Homo sapiens: one gene and its partners. The protein of the gene in region 2 purifies or fractionates together with the protein of the main gene of each other region. This does not show direct contact. Each region holds a gene or a part of one and is shown on either strand. Other genes may lie near its edges.

The links.
Region 1: the proteins of SNRPA1 (region 2) and U2SURP purify together in Homo sapiens (affinity purification with mass spectrometry; 5 studies listed by BioGRID and IntAct, with this or other methods). This does not show direct contact.
Region 3: the proteins of SNRPA1 (region 2) and SF3B6 purify together in Homo sapiens (affinity purification with mass spectrometry; 5 studies listed by BioGRID and IntAct, with this or other methods). This does not show direct contact.

What each region holds. Positions count from the first base shown.
Region 1 is NC_000003.12:143,004,545-143,011,572, reverse strand, and holds part of U2SURP (U2 snRNP-associated SURP motif-containing protein), read right to left. Parts: intron 759-7,028; coding exon 714-758; intron 1-713.
Region 2 is NC_000015.10:101,285,249-101,292,276, forward strand, and holds part of SNRPA1 (U2 small nuclear ribonucleoprotein A'), read right to left. Parts: intron 6,793-7,028; coding exon 6,714-6,792; intron 2,455-6,713; coding exon 2,408-2,454; intron 1,763-2,407; coding exon 1,660-1,762; intron 1,046-1,659; coding exon 966-1,045; intron 554-965; coding exon 478-553; intron 1-477. UniProt on the Homo sapiens protein: Involved in pre-mRNA splicing as component of the spliceosome. Associated with sn-RNP U2, where it contributes to the binding of stem loop IV of U2 snRNA.
Region 3 is NC_000002.12:24,067,083-24,073,351, forward strand, and holds the end of SF3B6 (splicing factor 3B subunit 6), read right to left. Parts: intron 1,378-6,269; coding exon 1,239-1,377; intron 770-1,238; coding exon 680-769; 3' UTR 504-679; downstream 1-503.

The sequences.
Region 1 (7,028 bases), on a different chromosome or scaffold from region 2:
GAAGTGCCAACAGTTTACCCACCAAATGCTTTTGTACCTCCAGCTACACTTGCATTAGTGCAAATGCCAAAATGGTGAAAAAGGCATAAATAATGCCTTAGTATTATTACAAAATAGTTTTGAATTCACAGACCCTTCTCAGAGATTCTCAGTGACTCCAGGGGTCTTCAGACTACACTTTGAACACTGCTGTAATAACATATATTAAAAAAATACTTATTGTAGTATTATCTATCCAAAATGTTACTTGAAAGCTTTAAACAAAAAATATATGCCCATCAACAAAGAAATAACAAACAACTGCACTTCCCCACCACAGAACATTATGATGCCTTAAGAAAGAACAGATTAGAGCTGTTAACAGTTTACCTGCAGGGATTTCCAACATATGTTTTGTGCGGTGAGAAAGGCATATGCATAATGCAATCCCATAGTCAAAGTATAAGTATAGATACGTTATGTATGTACAGATTTTTACACAATAAAAATCATAAGGAAATATACATACTAGGTTTCTAACATCGCTTCAGAGGGCTAAGTTATGCAAGCAGAACATAAAAAAAAAAAAGGAAGGCGCCTAGAAAAAAAAGAGTAAAAGAAAAAAGCACATACAATTGTATTTATTTGTCAAGTAAAATCATTGATGTAGGGATACATATGAGGAGAAGTTAAATTTTAAAGGAAAAAAGACAAAGATTGCCTTCTATACTCACATGTGCATCTGAAGATCCAGATGAATGAACATCTGATGATCTCGTCTACAAGTATCAAAAATAAAAGTCAATAATTTAAAATGTCTTATACTAACAAAACATGTCTCTCGTGTTATACAAACTTAAGAGTTTCCTAACTTCTGGCAATTTCTCCTCAGCTAATAAAACTGAGCAAAGGCAGTCTCTGACTTATGAAAAGATTGTGATACAAAGTAAATGTGTAAGTCATTTCTTTAAAATTCAGCCTGCATATTTCCAAAAATATAATAAACACTAGTGGGATATATATGAGGCAAAATTACCTCTTTATAGTATACACTGGAAACCTAACCACCATTTTTACACAGTTTTATGCAAAAGCTCTTCCTAATCATAGATGCATCGTTTACTGCCACAGCACTGCCCAGCAACTTCTTGGTCCACAGCACGAGAACTCTCTTTCTCTAATCACCCAAAGCCACATAAAGAAATCCACATATAAATCCTTGCTGTCTATTAAAAGGTACAAATTCTGCAAAGTTCCAGAAAATATTATCAAATCCCCAATAAGGCACCATTTACAACTCGTTTTAAGGGAGATGATTCGATAGCATGTCACAGGCTGCCTGGTGGCATGAGAAAGAGTTCATATAATATCTTCCAGTGATGTCAACTGTTAAAACTTCAACTTTTCTTAAGTGATCTACCTATCAGATTATACATGGTATGCAATAACTTGTTGCCACTACACATGTAAAGACAAAGATGACAAGCTGTAGGACGATTAACTAAATAATGTATGCTATCTTTCTGAAAGAAAGATTCTCCAAGAATTTTTACTTGGGGATCCAAAATATAACTGTCACTGAGCTGTTTTTATTTTTGAGGGTATACGGTAGTGAAATTTTACTTGTTTTTATTTATATATTTAAGTGTCAAATGTTCAAATGAAATCAAGAATATTGAGATCACAAATATCTCACCTGACCCCAACTCCCAGACAAGATGTCATATAAAGTACAAGATAAAATATTAGTTTAAGAGAAAAACTGAAGATTCATGTTATTTAAAAAAGAGCAAAGATCCATACAGTATTGTTTTATTTACATTGTCCAGACATAAGGCTAAGAACAGCTGGTAAGATTTTTACACTGAATCAATTTACTCCTCTGAACTCCACTGTATTGCGCATTAGCATAGGCAAAAATCAGCCCAGGACAACAGGACAACCAAGCACTGGGACCCCTCCCATCTCATTCTTTCTTTCATTTTTTTTTTTTCTTGAGACAGAGTCTTACTCTGTCTCCCAGGCTGGAGTACAGTGGCGCGACCTCGGCTCACTGCAGCCTCCGCCTCCCGGGTTCCAGTAATTCTCCTCCCTCAGCCTCCTGGGTAGCTAGGAGTACAGGCACGCACCACCATGCCTGGCTAATTTTTGTATTTTTAGTAGAGACGGAGTTTTACCACGTTGGCCAGGCTGGTCTCGAACTCCTGACCTCAGGTGATCTGTCCACCTCAGCCTCTGAAAGTGCTAGGATTACAGACATGAGCGACCGCACCCGGCCCCATCTCACTCTTTCTGTCCATGGTTTTTCTGTCCCCAACTTTTGTGTCCACCCTGATTTTCTTCTAGCGGCTAATCTTTCTTAAATGTCAAGGTGGTATAAAAGAAAATTTTTAGTATTTATTAACTATGAAACACACCCTGAAACATATCTTGAAATGCATAAATTTACAAATATCTAGAAATTTAAAAATCCAAAAGAATAAATAACTACTCTTACAAAAGAAAAACAAGTTCAGGCAAGAGGCTGAAGGGACTGAAAAAAATCAACTGCCTGGGCCAGGTGCAGTGGCTCACGCCTGTAATCCGAGCACTTTGGGAGGCCGAGGCGGGTGGATCAAGAGATGGAGACCATCCTGGCCAAACCTGGTGAAACCCCATCTCTACTAAAAATACAAAAATTAGCCAGGCGCCTGTAGTCCCAGCTACTCGCTGAGGCAGGAGAATGGTGTGAACCCGGGAGGCAGAGCTTGCAGTGAGCTGAGATCGCGCCACTGCACTACCGCCTAGGCGACAGAGACTCCATATCAAAAACAAACAATAGTAACAAAAAAAACTCAATTGCCTTCCAATACACCAGTATTAACTTGCTAAGCAACAAAAACATCCTAATCATAAAAGCAACAAAAAATATAAAAACATCTAGAAACCAATTTAAGAAATGTATATAACCCTTGTGAAGAAAACAAAAACTTCGAGAAAAATCCAGTTACTCAAGCCACCTTTTCAAAAGATTCATATTACTGGATGGGAAAATTCAATATTAAGATAATGTCAATGACACCTAAATTTCTTTACATATTTAATACAATTTCATTCAACCGCTCTAAATTCCAAAGGGAAATATTTGCAAGGGGGCAAAAGAATTGCCAAAACAATTCTAAAGTTCACCCAGAAAGAATAAGCATCCAAAAGAATAACTAAGAAAGCGCTACCCTTTCTGTAGTCTTTGATGCCACCACATCCAAATCATCATTTCTAGGATTTAAAAACAAAAGATACAAGAACCTAGGCATTCTGCCTATTTCCATATAGTTAACTCTTCCCTGACTCCAAGTCATCAAAAGATGAAGCTCTATAATCTTCAAGGATCTCACTTGCGTAACCATTCACCAAATTAAATAATCTCTAATACAAAAATAATCAGTTCAAAAGTAACAATTTTGTCAGCTTTCAAAATTACACAATTTGATAAATTTGCAAACAGAGCAGTAACAGCATAGTGTAGCACAATGCACCGGTGTAGGACAATGCACCAGCTGATTTCAGTTAGCTTAAGATGTCACTAATCACATTTACTGCAAACCAGACATTTTCCACTGATACATACCTACAGCTACATAGCATTCAGCACGGAACTTTAACAGTTCAAACAGCAGTTAACACAATTTTTAAAATAATCATCAACTTCTAAAGATAACAGTCAAGGTAAACAGTAAATATAGCACTACTTCAGAAGCTGAGCTTCTCCCTCTTCCTAACCTGGAACTGAACTGTATTCTTTGTCTTGAGTTTGGCTTTTTATTTTTAACTGAAGAACACAAACCAATGATGCCTAAAGATCTCCTGAAGTCGGCCGGGCGCGGTGGCTCACGCCTGTAATCTCAGCACTTTGGGAGGCCAAGGCGGGCGGATCACAAAGTCAGAGGAGATCAAGACCATCCTGGCTAACACAGCAAAATCCCGTCTCTACTAAAAATACAAAAAATTGGCCAGGTGCGGTGGCGGGCACCTGTAGTCCCAGCTACTCGGGAGGCTGAGGCAGGAGAATGACGTGAACCCGGGAGGCGGAGCTTGCAGTGAGCTGAGATAGCACTACTGCAGGCCTGGGCGACAGAGCGAGACTCTGTCTCAAAAAAAAAAAAAAAAAAATCTCTTGAAAGGACCCAAAAGCTGCTGGAGGGAGTGGCTCATGCCTATAATCTCAGCTACTAGGGAGGCTGAGGTGGGACGACTGCTCGAGGCCAGGAGTTCAAGACCAGCCTGGGCAACATAGCAAGAACCCCTGTCTCTGGAAAAAAAAAAAAAGAAAAGAAAAGAAAAATACAAAAGGAAGAAGTGAAAAGGCAGACTAAGGGAAGTTTGACACAATAAAGTAGCATACACAAGAGAAATTTATTTTAAGGCAGAGAAAGCAGACAGTAGAAATGTGGGGAGGGACAGCAAGAAAATCCAAAAGGAAAAAAGATCATTCTGATGGCTGCTAAAGGGATAAAAGTGAAGCCAACTACACTACCTGTTGCCCTATAGCTTGCTGGCTGAGAACAAAACTAGTTTTCTTCTGGCTGCTCCAATTTTACTTTAAGTGAAAACCCCACATCTGAGTTTCCAAATTACCAAGCTATCCACAGCAACATTCCTCCAACACTACCATTCTGCCTAGTGAGCTCTCCATTCGTGTATCTGTCTCCTAATCTCCCACGTTTCTCCTCTCACCCTCTAAGAGAAGCAACTTTCATCTCCACAAGTTTAACAATCTCTCCTATAGGAAGCATAACACCACCTTAATTGCATTGTGCTGACTCTCTTCTACTAGACAGCATGCTCCTCAAAGATGGGTACATTCTTTTTTTTGAGACGGAGTTTCGCTCTTTTTGCCCAGGCTGGAGTGCAATGGCATGATCTCGGCTCTCGGCAACCTCCGCCTCCCAGGTTCAAGCGATTCTCCTGCCTCAGCCTCCCGAGTAGCATGTGCCACCATGCCCAGCTAATTTTGTATTTTCAGCAGAGATGGGGTTTCTCCATATTGGTCAGGCTGGTCTTGAACTCCCGACCTCAGGTGATCCACCCGCCTTGGCCTCCCAAAGTGCTGGGATTACAGGCGGGAGGCACTGTGCCCGGCCGCTAAAAATGGGTACATTCTTATTTAACATTTTCTAACTCAACATCAAGCACAAGATCTGGCAAGCGACAGAGTCTCAATATACTTGACTTGTCAGAACAAGTGCCTACCACCAAACAAAATTACACTCCACACTATCAACATACTATGCTGTCCACTCATTAACAACAGCTACCTAGCTTAATACCACTATCCAAGCCAAATCAAGGTATCCATCTTTAAAAAACATTCACAAAATCATTAATACAAGCACTATATAAATAAAGTTAAATAACAAACCTAAGATGATTTTTTAAATTATTCAAAACACTACCAATACTATATGAAAAGTTGTAAGTACACTCTGAATAACCTATAGTTTATCTAAACTGAGGAAGGGCCTTGTGAAAAAACTTAACTCAAGGAATATATGTCTAACACTACCGTTAGCCTCAAGTGCTACTGACAAATGTATCTTGCTTTCAAAAACGTTATTTCAGCAAAATATCCAGCTCACAGCTGATGTGCAATAAAATGTTAAAACCACCTATACTAGAATGAGGCAAATAGTTTGTAATATTACTATTTTTGATTTTAATATCTTGTAGCAAGTTTTTCTTTTTATTCCAAAAATGATGGCTCCTTGAAAAAAAGGGTGGAGGGTAGAGGGGTAGATACTTCAACCGGCATACTAAATGAGCTCTTCTCTCAATGATACCCAGTAAGGCAAATGGGTATCTTTCTTAGGTTTACTTTCCAAGGAAAACAAAGCTTCAGAAATAAAAAACAAAAAGTGAAAATAAAAACTGGACTTTCAGAAAACAATTCAATCCAGAAAGATAGGAATTATTTTTAAAACCATACCAACAGGCATATTCTAGCACCCGTGCTGCAGGTTCAAGTTTCGAAAAAGTTATCAATCGAGAAAATGGAAGGAAGTTCAGTTCTACCTTCCAGACCAAAACAAAACCTTCTACCAAAAAAACTACCTTACATTTTAAGATAAGGTTACAACCATAAACCATAATAAAGATTCAGTTTAAAATTGGCAAACTGTTTGAAAGCCTGATTTTCAAGGTTTGTATTTTGTTTGGACTTTTTCATAAACTTTCAGGTACCACAAAAAATGAAAACTGGCAGTAATAAATACCTAAGGTTCACAAGCCTTGAACAGGTCCTCAGTTTACTTATTTCTTAAAAGTGATACTTTTTGTTAATCAGCAAAGGCAGTCAATCAAAACAGTTCCCAAAGCAATTCAGCACTGGATGTCCAAGGAAGCCTGTAGTATTTTGTTTTATCCATTCACCTAACTCAATTTTTGGCGATACGGCAAAAAAGAAAAAAAAAAAAAAAGCCATAGTCACAGAGTGAAATAGCAGGGCACACAATTACATTACATTAGCAATATTACCAGCACAGGAGATGGCAGAAGGAAAGAAAATACTACATTTTCTTCATATCCTAATTTTGCTGAGTAAGCAAACAATTGACAGTCAAAAACAGTAATTTTTTTATAAATTAAATTCTAAGGAAATATGCTTAACAATTTTATAAGTAAACAATTACAGGCTCTCTCTCTCTCCTCTCAAAATGAAAGCTACTACATAACATCAACACCCCTCCCCAACCAAGCAATATTTTAGACTAGTGATAAACAAACAAATGCACAGGAAAATTTTAGCTCATTTCTAGAACATTTGTTAAATGTCTACATCTGCCAGGCTCTAAAATGCAAAGCACAACAAAATTACACAGAAAATTAAAGTGCACAGGGGTCTCTTCATTAGGGACAATTATGAATAAAGGTAAGTCATTCAAGTACATACACATACATAAAGTATCATTTTAAAACTAGAAGCCAGGCACGGTGGCTCACGCCTATAATCCCCGCACTTTGGGAGGCCGAGGCGGGGGGGGGGGGTCACAAGGTCAAGAGGCCAACAGATGAAA
Region 2 (7,028 bases):
CTAAAATTGGTGAAGAGATGCAGGCCTTCTTATAAATAATCACTCCACATGTTCTAAAATCGTAGCTAAGTGAAGTAACTATTTGCAATTATGTTACTGAATAATTTAAGGAGGCAATATTATAAAACGAGGGTCCCTACTGATCAGTCAAAAGGATTTGCCAGACAGCAAATCTTCGAAAGTAAAAATTAAGGCAAACACTGAGACAGCATACCAAGGTAAGTAACTGTTCGAAGTGATAAATGCACCTTGGAAAATGAGAAAGACAAAGCTGCCTCCACATTAATTAGCTTGTGTAATTTCAAGTCTGATCAAATAATAACTTTATGCTAGTTTTTCCTTAAACAGAAATATTGCTGTATGCTAATAACTGTGGGAAAATGAAATCTGCAATGTTCGGAACATGTTTATTATCCAGCTTTGTGTTCTGAACCCATCTTAGCTCATTCCAGTCCAAGAATCCTAACACATGATTACCTTGATTGCTTCTACATCCCCTGGAGATGGCCCACCTTTCTTTTTGTCAGTTGGCAAACCAGCACCTGGATTAAAACTTAAGAGGGGGAAGAACATAACTGTTAGACCTAGACCAACAGAAGTTGCTTCTCTTTTACTTTCAAAAGCTTTTGAAAGTAATTCAACCAGTGTAGTATCTTATCTTTGTTAACAAACTGATACAAGAACTCTCTCCTTCAGAAACACCATCCAGTTCATCTTCCTATATAGAAAATAGGATGTACATGGTATCACATGAAGACTGACTACTGAAATATTTGCTCTGCTAAGCTGGTAGAAATTTCTTGTGATGTGTGGACCATTGATGTACATGGACTATAAGCACTCAAATTTAATACCACATTAATATGTCAGAGTTTTTGGTTAATTTTGTAGGAGACGAACTGCCAGACAGATCAGATCATGTTTCTGAAGGTGAAGTAGAGTTAAGTTGGATATCCGTGTCTTACGTTTTGCTTCTCCTGGCAATATCCTTTGCAAGCTGTGCACCCCGTTTGCCCTTGAACATTTTCTCTGCTTCCTGACGCTCCTACAGCGACACCACACACAGAGTTAATGGAAATAGGAATACCACATGCATTTAGATGCATTCCTCAGAAGACATGGAAGCGAACTCTCCTACAGTACTCCGGGCTGGTGAAAATACCAAAAAGCAATTTCAAATTAAGAGAAGACACAGTGGTCTTCTTTCTTTGGTAGAGCTCCCTGAAGAAAGTTCATTCTCCTAGCTCCAAGGAGGGGATCCCAGGGAACTAAGAAGGCAATTAAATGAATAATAAAATAATGAATTCCTAATAAAGGGAAAAATCATCCTAACACACGGAGCTGCACGAAAGTAGGTTACATTAAGTTCTCCGCTGGGAACGTATCTAGGCAGACAATCCACTGTTAAGACTGCTCACCGTGGCCTCAGCACTTTGCGAACTTCGGAATAGCCAGCATTACATAAGAGAGCTCCAACTTAAAAGTTCTATCATAAACTCTGCTATTAGAAAAAAATGTGATGTAACATTTTCCCTCCCACTTTTATTACAAACTAATGGTAAAATTTACTCATTTAGACAATTTTAATAATCAGTAACAAAAATATAAAGAAAAACACACAACTCTATAATGGCTCACAAGCAACAGATTACTACTTACTTTTAGTTTCACTTTCTGGAAATCCAGTACTCTGACTTGCGGAACTTTATAAATCACATACAATCTGTAATGCTTCTTATTGGTTACCGGATTTCTTAGGATACTACAAGAAAAGGAATGACACAATGGCAAACTTGTTCATGGCACAGCACTCAAGAGGTCTGTTTGAATAGTCTAAGGAACCTATAAATCAAGGGAACATTCACATTCTTCACATTGCAACATTGTAACAATTTAACATTAAGGAAATATATTCAATCTTTCTTTGTAAAAGGCACTTTTTTTTTAAATTATACTTTTAAGTTCTAGGGTACATGTGCACAACTTGCAGGTTTGTTACATATGTATACATGTGCCATGTTGGTGGGCTGCACCCATTAACTTGTCATTTACATTAGGTATATCTCCTAATGCTTTCCCTCCCCCCTTTCCCCACCCCACAACAGGCCCCGGTGTGTGATGTTCCCCTTCCTGTGTCCAAGTGTTCTCATTGTTCAATTCTCACCTACGAGTGAGAACATGGGGTGTTTGGTTTTTTGTCCTTGCGATAGTTTGCTGAGAATGATGGTTTCCAGCTTCATCCATGTCCCTACAGAGGACATGAACTCATCCTTTTTTATGGCTGCATAGTATTCCATGGTGCATATGTGCCACATTTTTTAATTATCTGATTACATTAAGGTCAAGGCTGGTAAAAGTAATGTTATTTTAAAGGGCTTCATTTTGTCACAATATGTAATTCCCATACCTTAGGTAAGTCAGCGATTTGAGAGATGCCAGAGGGTCCAGATCACCCTGTCAAGCAATAGCCACAGGTAAGAACGCGAATACCACACGCTATTTTGAGATTCTGAAATGGAGAGTGCTTTTGAAGCAAGTTGTCTTTTCATTATTTACTGAATTTTTACTCTCTAGCAACAAGCCCAATACTAGCACATCACAAATGTTTAAATAATTTCTACCGATGAATACATGGGAGCTTCTTAAAATCTTGGCATTAACAGCTTCTGTCTCAATAGCAGGAGATAAGAAATTGCTTTCCTACAGGAATCTCAAAGTGGCTGCTGAGCCATGATTTGGAAAAGAAAACAATGGCAAAGCTGATGGGACTCTGGAGCAACCTATTCACACTGGGAACTGCAAGCCAGAATCTTGGTGTAAGTGGGCTTTCCTGCTAGCGCCAGCTTCAGCGTCTAAGAACAACAAAGGTATACTGTCTTTTGAAAGAAGGTACATTTATCCTAGCTGCCCCTGAAAATCTCTTTAAATAAAATTTGCAGGGACAAGGAATAGTATAGCTTAAAAATGATCGAATTAATGGAAAGAAGGCAGGGTGATTTTTTTTTTTTTTTTTTTTGAGACGGAGTCTCGCTCTGTTGCCCAGGCTGGAGTACAGTGGCGTGATCTTGGCTCACTGCAAGCTCCGCCTCCCGAATTCATGCCATTCTCCTGCCTCAGCCTCCCAAGTAGCTGGGACTACAGGCGCCCACCACCATGCCCGGCTAATTTTTTTTGCATTTTTAGTAGAGACGGGGTTTCACTGTATTAGCCACGATGGTCTCGATCTCCTGACCTCGTGATCTGCCTGCCTCGGCCTCCCAAAGAGCTGGGATTACAGGCGTGAGCCACCACGCCCAGTGGGCAGGGTGAATTTTTAATCTTCTCCAATTGTTCCATAAAACATAGTGCAATAAGGATAGCAAAAAAACAAAAACCTATGGTTACCAGCTACAACCAAGCTAGATGGCAAGGCATTCTGCAGTAACTCTAAAATAGGAACAAGTAGAGACAACCCATGTTGAGAGCAACAAGGCTTGCAGGGTGACGGCCTTTGTACAGGAAGAAGCAGAGGGGAGGCGAGGAGCCGTCTTACAAACTGGAGAACTCCAGTGACTGAGAAAAGCAGGCCCAAGACCAGCATGTTCCAATAATGACTACAGGGGTCTGTGATAAGGGCTGCAGGGGCAAGAGCAATTTGGGCCCTCACTCTTAATAGAAATCATGTCCCAACACGGCCCTGCCCTGAAGAGAAACTGCTGGAACAGGCGCAAATTGGGTAGATGGTGGGGAAGGGGTGTGTGTGTGCAAGAGGCACAATGAGAAAAAAAAGTACAGATAAAAACAGGGAGAGCAGAGCCAGAAATTCTCAAAAAGCAAGCTGCCATCTTCAAATATGTCACAAAAACCACCAGAGGGAGCTCTAGAGCTTGATACTGTTTTACCCCCACTGAAGATGATCCAAAAAGGAATAAAGAACAAAGTGGTAACATTTGTTACATACACAGTGTAAAACGTAATGGCGATGTAGTGATGGGCTTCAAAAAAGAATAAATATGTAACAACCCGAAGGCTGCTGAAATGTTGAAGGTCACTGTACTGTATTGTTTAGCAGGGTAAAGGTGTCAAAGTTTAAAATTAAATGTTGAAGGTCATGGTACAGTGATCTTAACATTTAATTTTAAACTTTTATAAATATGTGTGTTTTAATTCCTACGATGCTAACTCAAGATTGAAAGAGAGTAATTTCTAAACCATCAGAAGAAAAAATGGAATGACAGAAGGAGAGCATCTACAATAAAGGAGAGAAAACGGATTGAAGAACGGGTGGGACAGACAGGAAGCCCCAGAACAGAGAGAAGACAAACTGGAACACACCAGTAATTACATTAAATGTAAACAGACTAAATATAAATAATTCACTTAAAAGAGCTTTCAGACTGGATTGTAAAAAATTCCAACCAGAGCTGGGCGCGGTGACTCACGCCTATAATCCCAGCACTTTGGGAGGCCAAGGCGGGTGGATCACAAGGTCAGGAGTTCGAGACCAGCCTGACCAACATGGTGAAACTTCGTCTCTACTAAAAAAAAAAAAAATACAAAAATTAGCCAGATGTGATGGCGCCCACCTGTAATCCCAGCTACTCGGGAGGCTGAGGCAGCAGGAGAATCACTTGAACCCAGGAGGCAGAGGTTGCAGTGAGCCGAGATCTCGCCACTGCACTCCAGCCACTCCATCTCAAAAAAAAAAAAAAAAAATTCAACCATACAGTTTTTAAGAGAGAAATCTAAACTACAAGAGGTACAGACAAGCTGAAAGTAAATTTTGGATGGAAAACGATTTATCATGCATATAACTAACCAAAACAAAGATTGTTTCGAGGTAAAAGAAACCTCAAGGTAAACAGCATTAATAGAGATCGAGGGTCACAACATAATAAAAAGTTTCCGTTCACCAGAAAGATATGAATAATTTAAAATTTGTATGTATCAAATAAGGCAACTTCAAAATATACAAAACTAAAATCGACAGAACTTCAGGGATAGTCAAATCCACTACCATGCTGTGAGATTCTAACATACCTCTCTCAATAACTGATAAGCCCAGTAGTCTTCATCTTTGCAAAGAGCTTTAAATACAACTCTAATTTCTCTAACAGCACCTATCATGAGACACATTGCCTATAAATATGTATTTCGGGTTGAATACTTCACACACTTCAGAAAGGACATGGCCATGGACCAGTGCTGTCTTATGTTTGTAGTCAAGCATCTCCTTGAGAATCTGAAGGATGCTATGGACCTTGTCCACAAGGAAAGGAACACAGTTCATTCTCAACAATCAGGAAAATACGGGAGGAAGGTTAAGTCACAAAATTAAGTTATACGATTTTTTTTTTTTTTTGAGATGAGGTCTTGCACTATTGCCCAGACTGGAGTACAGAGACATGATCATGTCTCACTGCAGCCTCGACTGATGGCTAGGGCTCAAGTGATCCTCCCACTTTAGCCACTGGAATACCTGGGACCACAGATGCACGCTACCACTTTTGGCATTTTTTTTTTTTTTTTTTTTGAGACGGAGTCTCTTTCTTTGCCCAGGCTGGAGTGCAGTGGCATGATCTCAGCTCATTGCAACCTCTGCCTCCTGGGTTCAAGCAATCCTCCTGTCTCAGCCTCCCAAGAAGCTGGGATTACAGGAACCCACCACCACGCCCGGCTAATTTTTGTATTTTTAGTAGAGACGGGGTTTCACCATATTGCCCAGGCTGGTCTTGAACTCCTGACCTCGTGATCCACCCGCCTCGGCCTCCCAAAGTGCTGGGATTACAGGCATGAGCCACTGCACCCGGCTTTTCTAAAAAAATTACTTATAGAGAGAGACAAGGTCTCACTATGTTGCCCAGGCTGGTCTAGAACTCCTGGGCTCAAGTGATCCTCCCACCTTGGCTTCCCAAAGTGCTTGGATTACAGGCATGAGCTATGGCACCTGGCCTACAATATAAATTTAAGCATCCAGTGTTTAAGTGAAGAATTTAGGTTACAAAACAATACACAGTATCTCAATTATGTTAAAAATTGGATACACAGAACAGAAATTTAAAAAGCATGAAAACAGTTCCAAGTGGATTGTTCATCTAACGTGAAGAGTAAAACAAGGTTTCTAGACTGGAACTGTTCAGCAAGATTTAATGCATATCAGATATGTAATCTAAAATTTTCTAGTAGCCATGTTAAAATAGGTGAAACTAATTTTAATAATATGCCATTTAACTTATTATCCAAAACGTTATCATTTCAACATCGATATAAAAAAATTACTGAGATAGTTTACTTTTTTTTTTTTTTGCACTTAAGTCTTTGAAATCCAGTGTGTATTTTATAGTTCTAGCACATCTCAATTATAAGTAGCCACCTGTAGTTACTGGTACTATATTGAACACTGCAATTGTAGAAAACAACATAGGAGTTTATAACCCTGGAATAGGGGAAATTTAAACATCAAAAGGGCTACAATAAAGAAGAAGATTGATTCATTGGACTGCACCTAAATTAGGAACTTCTCTAACAAGACATCCTAAGTCAAAAGTCAAGTAAAAGTAGGAAAATATTTGCAACATACGGCTGCAGAACCCAAAAGGCCCAGATCCTGAATTAAGAAAAAGACAAGAAAGAGGATACTGAGATCATTTTCTAGATTTTGTAAATTTTCTGTAGGAAGCACATAGTACCTTTAACCCCACCCACCAAATACATTTTCCTTCTGTGCAACTTACCAGTTCCACGAGACTATTATTGGTGAGAATGAGTTCTGTCAGACAGGGCAGAGCCTGATCAAGTCCCTCACCTATACGGCTAAAATAAAAATAGAGTCTTAGTAAAAGTGAAAATTAAATAAGCTAACAATTTTATCTACCTCCTTGCTCAGAGGATCACAGAGAGACACTTAGAGATCCTTCTTCCAACACCCTGATAAAGAGGAAACAAAGCAAAAAGAACCCTTTTCTGAGGCCACAGGGTCAGCAACAGAAGTGGGATTTTAGACACTGCCTGGGGCTAATTCCACTGTCATACCATCTAGTGGAACCTGA
Region 3 (6,269 bases), on a different chromosome or scaffold from region 2:
CCATAATAATTAAAAAACAATTTAAAGAGGCAAATCTAAGTTTCTAACAATGTACTATCATCTAAATGACCATTTCTATAATAGACCTCTGTTCTAAAGACAAGGGTACCCATATTGACACAGGTGTTTTGTTAACTATAAAGCAAGCATTATTCAAATGTAAAGGCTTGGTTAATAACTGGTTGTTATCACACCAGCTTTGTATGTTAGCATTTTATTCATTCAACCAACATCATGAACTTTGGTTTCCTCACCTGCAAAATGCAAATACCTATCTTCACTGAGTTGTTATGAAGATTTCATTATTAATGGACATGCAATAAACAGCAAGTTCCTTTGATGGCTAAGCACTGCACCGGGCCCTGGAGGCATTAAGAATGTAAAGAGATCCTGTTCTCAAGAAACTCAGAATCCCTAGGAGCACCTACAATTCTTGATAAGCTTCAACTGTTTTTTCCTGGTATCAAACAGGAAGGGAAAGTTCAAGAGAAAAGACTGAGGTGTTTCACAAAAAGCTACAAGTTTATTAACATAATGTATTCCAATATGTATCAAAGTTTCAAGCAGGTCATTTTGAACCTCAAATAAGAAATCACAATATTTAGTATTAATTAAAAAGGAAAAAAAGGTGGTAGTTGTCATTCGTGGGATTTAGTCCAAATGAAAATGTAGAAAACATTTATTTTGGTGGATCTGTGTTGATGCCATATTTCTCCTTGAGAAGCTTCAACTGTTCCTCCTTCTTCTTTGTGTCCATCTTCTGAAATGCCTGGAAATGTGGTAAGCACCAAAATTAAATTACCAATCTACAGCCAAATGAATTTCATCAATAGCATTAGCCAAAAAAGAAAGTCATAGTAGACATATATCATCACAGTACAGTTCTACACTAATTCTCTTGAGACGGAGTCTCTCTGTTGCCCAGGCTGGAGTGCAGTGGCGTGATCTTGGCTCACTGCAGGCTCCACCCCCTGGGGTTCACGCCATTCTCCTGCCTCAGCCTCCCGAGTAGCTGGGACTACAGGCGCCCGCCACCACGCCCGGCTAATTTTTTGTATTTTTAGTACAGACGGGGTTTCACCGTGTTAGCCAGGATGGTCTCGATCTCCTGACCTCGTGATCCGCCCACCTCGGCCTCCCAAAATGCTGGGATTACAGGCATGAGCCACCGCGCCCGGCCAGTTCTACACTAATTCTCAAATGAGATCACTACACAATGAGAACTTTGCTATACTTACCCTGTTGGCATTATAGTACAAAACCACAAGGTATCTGTTACAAACATTGAATCCCGATAGGTGATCACATGCATTCTTGGCATCAAAGATGTCCTCATAGACCACATAAGCTGTTCCTCTAGTTTCAGGTGTGTTCCCCCTGGAGAGGTAAGTTAAACTTAATTAAGATATACATTTACCTGAGCATTGATAGTTGACTTACAGAACTGTCTTTTAAACTGGTAACTGTCTTTTAAAAACAGTAAATTGAAATACGTTTTTAGTTAAGTATTTTGAAATCAACCTGAAACCATCAGAGGAAATAAACATGGATAGATATACCGGATAAGCCTGTAATTTCTTGAATTAGGTAATTTTGTTCTTCGTTTTTATCTTAACTAAAATATCCATAGGTCAAGCTGACTGTCACATCAGGAATACTAAGAACACAGCTACTACACAGAACAGCCTCGTGAGTTGTGGGGACTACAGGTGCTCTTGCCACCCTGACTGGCTCTACGTTGTCTTTGTTTTGTTTTGTTTTTGTTTTTGTTTTTGTTTTTTTGAGATAGACTCTCACTCTGTTGCCTAGGCTGGAGTGCAGTGGCACAATCTCAGCTCATTGCAACCTCTGCCTCTCAAGTTCAAGTGATTCTTGTGTCTCAGCCTCCCAAGTAGCTGGGACTGGAGGCATGTGCCACCATGCCCAGCTAATTTTTGTATTTTTAGTAGAGACAGGGTTTCATCATGTTCCCCAGGCTGGTCTTAAACTCCTGACTTCAAGTGATCCGCCTGCCTCAGCCTCCCAAGGTGTTGGAATTACAGGCATGAGCCACCACACCCGGTCTACATTCATTTTTAATACAACTCAAGTGCTAATGCACGATACAGCTGTGTGGCTAGGGAGAAGGGCTAGGCTTCTGCAAAGATGGGAGTGGAAGTGTGCTTGTGGATAGGGTTATCAGTGAGCCAGGGCAGAATGCTGGAAGGTGGCTGGAAGTGGAAGCTAACCTTACTTATGGATACGAGGTTGCTGTTAGTGTAGTTATTCCTGGCCACTTCCTTCCTTCACCTCACCAACTTCCTCTGGGAGAGGTAGAGAAGTTTGAGGAGCAACGCAACGCTAAATTGCAGGCAGCAGGTGGCCATGTGACTGTTAGTGGAGACAATGGGTAGAGGTCCCACTCAGTTCAGGCTCTGGGTGACAAGATGGCCCCCTTGCCTCCATCTGTGTTCCAACCACCCAGTGCAACTGTGGAATGAGGTTTAAGACTGTGGGCTGACTCTCCATCTGCCACAGTCCTTACATAGGGTTGAATAAAAGCAGTGGAGCCATGGGAAGAGGAGGTACCTGCCTAGACTTGATCTAGGATAGGACTATAGTCTGGGCCCTGTTCAAGCTTGTGCTTCCTGTAAAATTGAAAAGGAATAGGGTACTGGGGGTGATTGGAGGGTGCCACTGTCAATGAATGCGCTCACTTTGTCAGGTTGTGTGGGCCTGACGAGGGGTTTTAGAATGTTCTTTAGGCTCTGGCAAGTCTTAACAACTTTCAGACTTTTGACTTCTAAAAACTTAATAAGATTTTCAGTTCCTTAAGAGCAAAGGTGATCTTATGCGTACTTCATTTATTCCTTTAGTGCCACGCATAAGGCAGACGCTAATACGCCTTTGAAAAGTGGAGATCTACTTTCTTCTATCAGTTCTCTCACACACACTTTGTTCAGGAAGCTCAAAACAAAACTAAACAAAGCAACTCTCTTTCTTCCTCTTATATCTTCTTAGGAACTAGAATAGGGATAGACACTAACCCCACTTTAAAGACTCTCCATCTTAAGTGTCCCAGCCCTAATTATCAACCTCACACCTTGAGAGCCATATTATAATTTGAACTTTTAAAAGCATGTATCTGTACCTACCACGTATTGGACACTGAGCTAACATTATTTTCTTATTTTTTTGAGACAGAGTCAACCAATTCTTGTGCAGGTGTGCGCCACCATGCCCGACTAATTTTTGTATTTTTAGTAGAGATGGGGTTTTGCCATGTTGGCCAGGCAGGTCTCGAACTCCTGGCCTCAAGTGATCCACCCACCTCAGCCTCCCAAAGTGCTACAATTTTCTTGACTGGCATTAAAATCTTAGAGTAGGAATAAGAACACCTAAGCGTGTAACTTAGCCTCTGTGAGCTTCGGATGCTTCATGTATCCAGTGCCATCAGGCTCTATCACGTGCCCTACCTTCCACGTGGGTTTAATAATCAAAAGAGGTAACAAGTATCAAAGAGTTTTAAAAAGTACAAAGTACCAAGTGCCTGCTACATGCCAGGTAGGGTCAAACCAAATCATCCTGATTTGACTGGGACTGTCCAGGTTTTAGCACTGAAAGTCCAGTGTCCCAGAAAATCTCTCAGTACTGGGCAAACTGGGAAGGTTGGTCACCCTAGTGCCAGGTGCCAGGTATACAATAAAGCATGATCACAGTAATGGAACAGAAAAACAGCTGTTTCTCAATCTATAATTTAGACCTAAGCTCCTGTACCCTAAACTTCTATTAACCTATTCAACACATAGACTATGTTCTTTCTGCGACAGGCACTAGAAATACAATAGTGAAAAAGATAAGCATCATCCCTTCCTTCAAGCTTATATTCAGGCAGTAGAAAGACATTAAATAAATATGAAATCATTATAAATCTTTTTTTTTTCTTTTTGAGACGGAGTCGCACTCTGTCGCCCAGGCTGGAGTACAGTGGCATGATCTTGGCTCACTGCAACCTCCACCTCCCGGGTTCAAGCGGCTCTCCTGCCTCAGCCTCCTGAGTAGCTGGGATTATAGGCATGCACCACCACGCCTGGCTAAGTTTTGTATTTTTAGTAGAGACGAGGTTTCACCATGTTGGTCAGGCTGTTCTCAAACTCCTGACCTTGTGATCTGCCCACTTCAGCCTTCCAAAGTGCTGGCATTACAGGCGTGAGCCACTGCGCCCAGCCCTGAAATAATTATAAATCTTAAGAAATGTTTCGGCTTGGCACGGTGGCTCATGCTTGTAATCCCAGCACTTTGGGAAGCCGAGGTGGGAGGATCACCTGAGGTCAGGAGTTCAAGACCAGCCTGGCCAACGTGGTGAAACCCCATCTCTACTAAAAATACAAAAATTAGCCAGGCATGCTGGTGGGTGCCTGTAATCTCAGCAACTCAGGAGGCTGAGGCTGGAGAACCACTTGAACCTGGGAGGCGGAGTTTGCAGTGAGCCGAGATCGTGCCATTGCACTCCAGCCTGGGCAACAAGAGCGAAACTCCATCTTAAAAAAAGAAATGTTTCATACAAGAAGTAGAAAGCTGTAACAGATAGGGAAACAGGGAGCTACTTCAGCTAGGGTGGTCAGGGAAAACCCCTCTGAAAAGGTGACACTGAAGCTGAGACCTGAAGAATGAGGAGGAGCCAGGCATGAGATGAGCTGGTGAAAACCATTCCAGATACAAGGAAAATAGAAGCACAAAGGTTCTGAGCTGCTCTGCACTCTTCTGAAGATGCCCCTGCTTTATTCCCTGTCCTTTCATTTTGGCTTTCTGAAACATTCTCTAACTTCACTGATTTTAAGCATCCCTTAATTGAGTACTATCAATAAATTTTATAATGCCCTAGTAAACCAATCACAACCACTTTTTATATTATTCTTCTATTTTCTTTTCTTTTGTTGAAACAGGATCTCACTCTGTCGCCCAGACTGGAGTGCAGTGGCATGATCTCGGCTCACTCACTGCAGCCTCAGCCTCCCAGGTTCAAGCGATTCTCCCACTTGAGCCTCCTGAGTAATTGCATTACAGGCGCGTGCCACCATGCCCAGCTAATTTTTGTATTTTTTTTTAGAGAGGGGGTTTCACCATTTGGCCAGGGTGGTCTCGAACTCCTAACCTCTGGTGATCTGCCTGTCTCGGCCTCCCAAAGTGCCGGGATTACAGGTGTGAGCCACCACATCTGGCCTATTCTACTATTTTCTATATTATTCATTTAGTATACATCGGGTGCTTACCATGTATCGCACAAGTGCTATCAACACAAAAACAAAAATAATATATGGTACGAGCCCTGGAGGAACTCACAACCTGCCCAGGGTGACAGATGAATATAGAGACAACAGCAAAACCATGTGTTAACCTAGGAGAGACACATGGAAATGCTATGGGAGCAGAAGAGTGGCTAATGTACACTGGGAAGGAAAACTGATAAAGTACCTTCACAGACACTGTGTAATTTCATCCAAATTAAAATTCTTTTAAGACAGTAGGTTAGGAAGACTGTATTTCATAGATAATTGAAACCCAGATAAGGTTAAATATTTTCTCCAGTTTCGTAAGAGTAGGCAAGCCAGTATTTGAACCCAGGCCTTACAACCAATCTATGCTGTTTCCACATTAAAAGCTAAAAGGCCACCACCCAGATTATCTCATACATGAAGAGAAAACCAAAAAAGCTAGGCAACTAGTCACACACATGGCTAGTAACAAGGCCTGAAGTAGAATCTTGTCTCCTGATCCCCAAGGCAGGGATTCGCCATGTTGGCCAGGCAGGTCTTGAACTCCTGGCCTTGTATACCATTCTGTATCTAGAGCAGGGTTTCTTGACCTAGAGTCCATGTATCCCCTGAAATATATGCAACATGAGTGTATTCTTCTGTGGAAGGAGTCTAAAGCTTTTATCAGATGCTCAAAGGACTGAGACCTCCTAAAAAGGACAGCTGGTCTATAACACTTTCACTTTCATCCCCATCTGAGTACCAATGATCATGTATTTCCAGCTCTTGGTTTACTCTCTGGAGGGACAGTGTCATTCAAAAGGAGGGTCCTCAAGACCTCATAGTCCTAAAGCCAGGAAGGAGCTCTCAAGTCATACAAGACGGAATTCCGACTAGAAATAAAAACTTTATACGTAGTCATTACTGTGGTAAAATAATAATTTTTTTAAAATAAAAACTTTAGAAATCCTTTCAGATGGACTCTTAAGTCACTAGCCCTTTCATATGAGTTCGGGTGTCAGAGGCTATGGTACT